2 linked regions of the Homo sapiens genome follow. The protein of the gene in region 2 interacts with the protein of the main gene of each other region in a pairwise test. Each region holds a gene or a part of one and is shown on either strand. Other genes may lie near its edges. The genes, in order: CXCR5 and GNA13.

What was found.
Region 1: the proteins of GNA13 (region 2) and CXCR5 interact in binary tests that used the Homo sapiens proteins (3 or more experiments, as listed by UniProt).

What each region holds. Positions count from the first base shown.
Region 1 is NC_000011.10:118,882,410-118,886,702, reverse strand, and holds the start of CXCR5 (C-X-C chemokine receptor type 5), read right to left. Parts: upstream 2,812-4,293; 5' UTR 2,762-2,811; coding exon 2,711-2,761; intron 577-2,710; exon of another isoform or gene 1-576. UniProt on the Homo sapiens protein: Cytokine receptor that binds to B-lymphocyte chemoattractant (BLC). Involved in B-cell migration into B-cell follicles of spleen and Peyer patches but not into those of mesenteric or peripheral lymph nodes.
Region 2 is NC_000017.11:65,049,929-65,053,740, forward strand, and holds part of GNA13 (guanine nucleotide-binding protein subunit alpha-13), read right to left. Parts: intron 3,801-3,812; coding exon 3,574-3,800; intron 1-3,573. UniProt on the Homo sapiens protein: Guanine nucleotide-binding proteins (G proteins) are involved as modulators or transducers in various transmembrane signaling systems.

The sequences.
Region 1 (4,293 bases), on a different chromosome or scaffold from region 2:
CCCCAGCCCAGGCCCTGGTTCTGTTGGAAGGAGGCTCTCAGATCGAGGGTCGCATAGACAGGGTCTGCTCTAGGTCTGCCAGGATCGGCCTTTCCAGCAGGATGGGTCCCTGGCATACCCACCCCAGGACCTGGAATCTTCTTGTTCCTGGTTCTTAGCCATCTAATTTTTGTTCTATTTGGACCTTTCATTGATGAGAATTAGCAGCCCGTCCCCACCCCCCAGCCCCTGCCTTAAAGAAGTGGACATTTTAAGCGGCTCGAGTTGGTCTTCGAGTTCAAGAGGACAAATGGAATACAGAATGACGAACCTGGCTTATGGCCAGGAGCCCCCAGTTCCTTTTTTTTTTTTTTTTCTGGCAAGTTTGTGTAACCAAAAGGCCCCAGTTCTTAGCTCAACATGAGAGTGTAAAACCCAGCGTTCAAGGAATGTGAACCAATACCTGGTATGGGCAAGGACAAGGAGGAGAATAGGAAGCAGAAGGAATAGAAGGACCCAGACTAACTCCAGAGGAAAATGGTGAGCTAAGACCTTTACTGCATCACAAATCAATAAATACTTATTGAGAAGCTGCTACATGCAAGATTCTCCTGCCTGTACCACTACGCCCGAGGTTTTTGTACTGTGACACTGAGGGACAGTCTGCCAAGCTGCTCACGGCCCTTCAGTGAGTGGGTGGGGGCGGAGGAGAGGGTCTGTGTTCTGAGGGGACATTGGCCCTGGAGACAGGGTGTGTAGGAGATTCGTGAAGGGGGAACGAGGCACTGGTGGCTGGCTGAAGAGCTCCAGAGCCCAGATGGTCCTAGGACTCCTGGGCTCCTGGCTAGACCCTGAGTGAGGGATCCAGATATTGGAATGCCTGGCTGAGGATCACTCATTTGAGGTGTGACATGAAGAAAGTCACTGGGTCCCTTTCCCCCAGATGTAGGTTTTCTTGGGACATGCCCTGCTGCCCCTGCCCCCTGCCCCCACCTGTCCCTAGTAGGTCACTCAGTGAGGTGAGGCGTGCAGTTAGGGGAAACTCTTAAGGTTTCTCAGAAGCTGGGACCCGCCGGGTCTCCAGTTGGTTACTAAGATGTCCAACTGGGTCAGGGCTCGTGGTCAGTTTGAAGCTGCAGGCAGAGGAAGACGCCCAGTAACCTAATCAGGCGAGGCCAGCGGCTGTGACCGGGGGCCAGGGTGGGAGCACATTGCCCCTTTGGGGCCGCGGGTTTTTAGTCTGATTTGGGGTATTGCCCAGACTCTGTGATTAGACTCAGGGCAGCTTCATGGGCTTGCAACTGGGGCAGTCACACGGGGGCCTGCACCCAGCAGGACCCCCCACGAGGTTTAGTGCTCTGCTGTTGCCTTCTTATTTATAATAATTTTTCAACAAGGGGCCCCATGTTTTCATTTTGCATTGGGTCCCACAAATTATGTAGCAGGTCCTGGTTAGATGAATGGTCCGGCTCTGATTCCACCTACGGTTTGGATCCGAGGGGCCAGGCTTTGGGTAGTCAGCCCTTCTGCCCACTTTCTCCCCGTGTCCTACTTACACTTCCCAGCCTTGGGATCTGGGCAAGCGAGAGGCGGGCTTCTCTGAGCAAGTCTGGGAACATGGTTGGTGGAACTACAAAGTCCACTCCACAAAGTCCACTCCAGCCGGGGGAGCAGGAGGGAGTCAGACAATATCTTAGGGTAAGTTTGGGACAGGAGAGTTGGTAGGAGCCAGGGTTTGGCTCCTTCATGATCTAACCCAGAGTGCAGCCCCGAAACAAGTCCTCTCTCCAGGGGGAGAAAAGACAGTGAAGAAGTTTCCAAGAAACCCTTACAACCAGCCTCTGCCGTCGGCTCACAAGGAACCCTGTGTTTCTCTGGTTGAGCTGCTCCACACACACACACATCTTCTGGGAGCCCAGTGACAACCAAGTCAACTGCACCACTACGCTTCACTGGAGAGACTTGAGTGGTGGCAGCGTAGTGCTGGAGACCATTTTCTTAGCCCACCCAAGAAACCTTTCCAAGAATACCTTATCTCTAGAGATTCTACAACAGGTTCCAAGACATTTGTCAGATTAACAGTTTTCTCACCCTGCTCCCTGACTCCAGCCTGCTGGGATCCTCTTCCTTGCTACCATCTGGTCTCACATTCCCTCAGTTTAGCACATAATTGTTGCCTAATAGCTTCCAGTGAGTGATTTTTTTCTCTGGCCAGAGCAGAAGCTATTTGAGGGCAAAGACCAGGTCCTCAACTTCTCCACCCAACACAGAATGTAGTGCCCTGATGACATAATCATATGGCCAGAGACGAACAGCTATGCATTCATTGACTGATTAGCAATGCCAGCCTCCTTACGGTAAGAAAACCTCCAAAGTACTTTCCTGTCTAGTTCCATATTCCGACCCTAAGAGAAAAGGAGAGAAAGAATGGAGAGGTGAAGTATCCTGTTCCCAGTCACATAGCAACTCAGAGGAGGATGCAGGGCCTGAACCCGTGTCTTCCAGCTTCCTCTAAAGGATGTCTCCTAAGGACAGCAGCTCTCCTTATCTGCTTCTTCCACAGAATGGAAAATAAACTCTTAAAGGGCGGGAGCTGACTGACCTGTCTAGATTTTACAGATCCACAGTGGGAGAGGATTCCCACACTGTCCCCTCTCCCTCGGACTCTGGCAAAGGATGTTAGAATTCCAGACAGGGCCTCGGCGACAGGAAGCTACCCGTGTCTACTCACCAGGTCCTCCAGGTTCTCGAGGTCCATTTCCAGCGTTAGCGGGTAGTTCATGGCTGTGCCGGCTGTGAGTCACCAGACTGGTCACTGTCTTATGTTGAGAGGCTCCCCGCCAGGTGCCTCTAGAGAGGTGGCAGCCGTCAGCTGCAAATTTAAGCAAATGAGCTGCGCATCGTCTCCTGAGGCAGTAGGGCCGCGACCTGCCTCACAACTCATCACTTTTTTTTTTTTTTCCACTGGGTCTTTTCTGTTTTTTTGAAGAAAGAGGGAAAATCCCCCACAGCATCAGTGCTAGTCAAGCATTTCAGCTTCTTTCCCGGCAATAATTGTCTCAACTGGGGCCTATGACTAGTTTAAAGGCTGCCCTCACTTCTCCTCCCTATACCCCCAATAAGGGGCTCACAACTTGTAATGAAACCACCACGCAAAGTCAGCAGGTTGATGAGGGAAACTCCTGATCAACAGAGAACAGGAGAAGAGCTCTCCCAGCAACCTCTCCTCCAAGCCACCTCCAAACCTTCATTTTCCTCACCACTAGGGTGATCAACCATTCCAGTCTGCCAAGGACTGAAAAGTCCCTTGACTTGGGAAACCCCTAAGTCCTGGCAAGTTAGGGCACTTGGTCACACTACTTGCCACCATCCTTTTGCCCAACAGAGGCAAAACCCCTTCCCTTCTCAGCTCAAGTTCAGAAAAGATAGGTTAGAATTTTTCAAAGGGAACAACAGTAAAACAATACTGGAAGACAAAAATGAAATCAACTTTGGAAGGCCGAGGCAGGAGGATGGCTTGAGGCCAGGAGTTGGATACCAGCCTGGGCAACATAGCAAGACCATGTCTCTAAAAGAAAAAAAAAAAGTGAAATCACCAAGAAAAGCACATAGTTACAGAGTCATTTTCTGACTCAAAAATAATGATGTTCTATCTATAAATTAACTTTGTTTGCTCATAAATTATTAACCTCATAAACTACCAAGCTAGAGATGGCTTCAGAGATCATCCAGTCTAACCCTCAATTTTTATTCAGGAGGTCCGTGAGGCCGAGAGGGAGAGCAACTTACCCGAGATCCCACAGCTAACCAGTGGCAGAGCTGGGACTTGAACTCAGGTCTTTTGACTCCACCTTTAGTGTTTTCTCTACTCCAGGCTGCCACTCTTGCAGGCACTCATAACCTCTGTCCTTTCCCTCAACTCTGTCCTGTCTGAGGGCCGCTTCCTTTAAGAAGCCGTTTTGTAGATGTTGATCAATTTCCCTTCCAAGTCTCATTTTGTGGCTTTTTCTTCCAGAAGTGGGCATTTCCTCTCTTGATCCACAATGATGTGAGAAAGATGACTGCACGCACAGAGGCACCCACACATGGTGGCTGCTTCTTGGCCCCACCCCCACCCTTGTTATCACGCTCCCTTTCAGCCAAATCGCCCTTTGCTGGGATCCTACTACCCTTTCCAGTGCCCTCCTTCACCCTCTCCTCCATATTCACCTTCCCTCTTTCCCCTCTTCACACCTTGCTTACTGAAGATGCTTACCCCACTGCATCCCCAACAGATGCATCATTCTTTTTTTTTTTTTTTTTTTTTTTTTTTGA
Region 2 (3,812 bases):
AATAATTCTGGCAGAGGGACTACGCATGATGAGAGCTATAGAAGCAAAAAATTAGGGTATGTGGGAATCAAGAGATTACAGAGTATGTCCAGTGGCCTAATGAAATATATTGCTGGAATCACAGGTAAGCTAGCTAGAGTCTTTACTCCCACAAAAAAGCTGAGCTCTGTTCTGAAGACAATGGTGAGCCACCAAAGCTTTCTGAGCAAACCAATGCTGTGTTTGAACAAGACTGCCTTGGAGTCCAAGCAAGAGGTAGCAGAACACAAAATAGAGGAAAGGAGGGAATGAATGCAAGAGACGTTACAGAGGTAGAAAAATCAGAACTTGGGGAGCTGCTGCATGTAGATGAGTAGATGGAATTGATGATGACTTTGAGGAAAATTTTAAGTAAGCCAAGTGCCTTCTCAGTGCCTGACACTATGCCAAGCACCACAGCACATCCAAGAGTTTAAGAGTCATTAAGTCAACATAATAATGGAGCATCTCTATGTGTCAGGTGCTATTAACAATGCTGAAGCCACGCACAGTGGTTCATGCCTATAATCCCAACATTTTGGGAAGCCAAGGCAGGAGGACTGCTTGAGGTCAGGAGTCCAAGACCAGCACTGGCAACATAGCAAGACTCCGTCTCTACAAAAATTTTTTTTTAAATTAGCTGGGTGTGACGGCACACACCTGTAGTCCTAGCTACTTGAGAGACTGAAGCTGGAGAATCACTTGAGCCCAGGAGTTGAGTCTACAGTGAGCTATGATCACAACAGGGCACTCCAGCCTGGGCAACAGTGAGACCTTCTCTTAAAAAACAAAAACAAAAAAACAAAAAACAATGCTGAGCGTAGACTCAGGAAAAAAGAATCTCTGTCCTCCAGAAGTTTAAAATTAGGTCTTGCTCTGTTCCTCTTTTCTTGTCTCTACTTTTCATCATGGAAAAAAGTATTTCTGGAACTTATCTCTCCTCATCTTTGAGGACTTCTTTGCTCCTTAAGGATCAACTGGCTCAAGTCAACAACAAGCAGGTCCTCATCCTGAGTGGTTTTACCTATTCGTTCTTAATCACAAAGATATACTTAGGGATGCTTTCTCAACAATGAGGACATGACAGTCCTGATGTGAGACAGTTAGACGTCAGCTTCCAAATTAAAAAACTGTCCATGAAACACAACTTTAATTAAATGGACTTAGGGCAAATACGGAACTTCCCCACAGAGAACTTTCAGGTATGCAGTTCTTTATTTATTCATTTAATCCATATGCACTGTATGCTTATTACAGATGAATGTTTCTTCTCTGACCTGGAAGGATGAATAGAGCCTGACAAAATTGAGTTGAAAGTGTGTGGTTTGTTGAGAAAATGAACTAAGAAGAAAGGAGAATAAGCAGCACTTAAAAACAGGAGGTAGATGGCCAGGCACAGTGGCTCATGCCTGTAATCCCAGCACTTTGGGAGGGCAAGGCAGGCAGATCACCTGAGGTCAGGAGTTAGAGACCAGCTTGACCAACATGGAGAAACACTGTCTCTACTAAAAATACAAAATTAGCCAGGTGTGGTGGCGCATGCCTGTAATCTCAGCTACTTGGGAGGCTGAGGCAGGAGAATCGCCTGAACCCAGGAGGCGGAGGTGAGCCAAGATCGCGCCACTGCACTCCAGCCTGGGCAACAAGAACAAAACTCTCAAAAAAATGCAAAAAAACAAAAAACAGGAGGTAGAGTGATGGGCGATGGAAAGGGGTATATGGAAGAACTCATGCAAGCAAATCTACCAAAAATAAAGTAATAAACATTGATCAAGGGACAAAACTAACCAGAAATCTGGGAATTGGATGGAGGTCATTTGTCAAGTTAAATTCATCATTTTCAACATGCAATACTGGCAGCTACGTAATTTTAACAATAATGTGAGACAGTCCCTGCCTTTCAGAAATAAACACATTACTTGAAAAGACAAGATACAAACATGATAGAAGAGAACTATACAAGACGGTAAATAATCAAATGCTAGTTGAATGACAGATATAAAAGCCATAATTCAGATATAGTCAAAATTAAGGTGTCAGTTTTATAAAAAGCTATCGTGAACACTTTCCTGGAACTTTTAAAAGGCAAGACTGCTTCTAAGTATAAATAATAACAGCAAGGACTGCTGGTTGTACATCGCTTTGCAGCCACACCCATTAATGTGGATTAATGTTGGTGACATCATCAAACAACTTCCTAAGCAGCTTATTTATTTTTTTTTTGGAGATGGAGTTCTGCTCTTGTTGCCCAGGCTGGAGTGCAGTGGCACGAACTCGGCTTACCGCAGCCTCCGCTTCCAGAGTTCAAGCGAGTCTCCTGCCTCAGCCTCCTGAGTAGCTGGGATTACAGGTGCCTGCCACCACACCTGGCTAATTTTTGTATTTTTAGAAGAGACGGTGTTTCACCGTGTTGGCCAGGCTGGTTTCAAACTTCTGACATCAGGTGATCCACCCGCCTCAGACTCCCAAAGTGCTGGGATTACAGGCATGAGCCACCGTGCCCAGCCAGCAGTTTTACTTTTAACTGTCACTTCATTTTAATCATATTAGAGTAAAACACTTCAGATCTGAACTACCTCCAAATTGCACACAGTCTAGATTTCTATCACTGCTGGAATCTTTCTGATCTTTGGCAAATAAAACCCAATCACAGCATTCACAGTTAAATTACAAAACACTTGATTAAAAATTTGTTTCAACTGTATTCTGTATCTTTAACCTGGATTGGATACTTTTATTCCAAACCTGTCTTCAATGCTGTGTAACAGCTACAAAGCATTTTATGGGTAGTCTCGTTAAAGAAAAAAGGGGAAAAATGCCTGGCACAATGCCAGCAATTTGGGAGGTCAAAGTGGGCACATTACCTGAGGTCAGGAGTTCAAGATCAGCCTGGCCAACATGGCGAAACTGCCTCTACTAAAAAGACAAAAATTAGCTAGGTGTGGTGGCACGCGCCTATAGACCCAGCTACACAGGAGGCTGAGGCAGGAGAGTTGCTTGAACCCTGGGGGCAGAGGTTGCAGTGGGCCAAGATCACACCACTGCACTCCAGCCTGGGCAACAGAGACTCCGTCTCAAAACAAACCCCCCAAAAACAAAAAAACAAATTTCTGAGGCTATAATTTTGGATAGATACATTAAATTATGGAAGTCAGTGAAAAAAGTGTGCTAAAATCAGATACAGGTTGAGTGTCCCTTATCCGAATGCCTGGGACCAGAAGTGTTTTGGATTTTGAATTTTTTCAGATTTTTGAAATATCTGCATACATATGAGATATGCTGGGAATGGGACTCAAGTCTAAACTAGAAATTCATTTATGTTTCATATATACCTTAAGATATGTAGCCTAAAGGTAATTTTATACACTATTTTTACACGTAGTCATTAGAGACTAGGACACATTAGGTCTGTGCCTTAGCCTTTCAGTCTGTTCCTCCATCTCAAATACTTTTAGATTTGGGAACATTTCGAATTTTCGCATTAGGGATGTGCAACCTGTATTACTAAACATCATTAAAATAAAACCACACGTTTTAAAAGAGCAAATCTCTTACCAGTTGAAATTCTCGACGCCGGTCATAGGCATTCTGTATGCCGCTGTCTGCCCATAATGCTCTTATAGCAGGAAGATATTGTAAGAAAACCCTTGTTTCCACCATTCCTTGGGCTGCCATGGGGGCCCGGGTATCAAACGACATCATCTTATCTCCATGTTGTTGGTTTGAGTTGTCTCCCCAGGGAATATGAAGCTTCTCTCGAGCATCAACCAGCACCCTCATACCTTTGTTTAAAA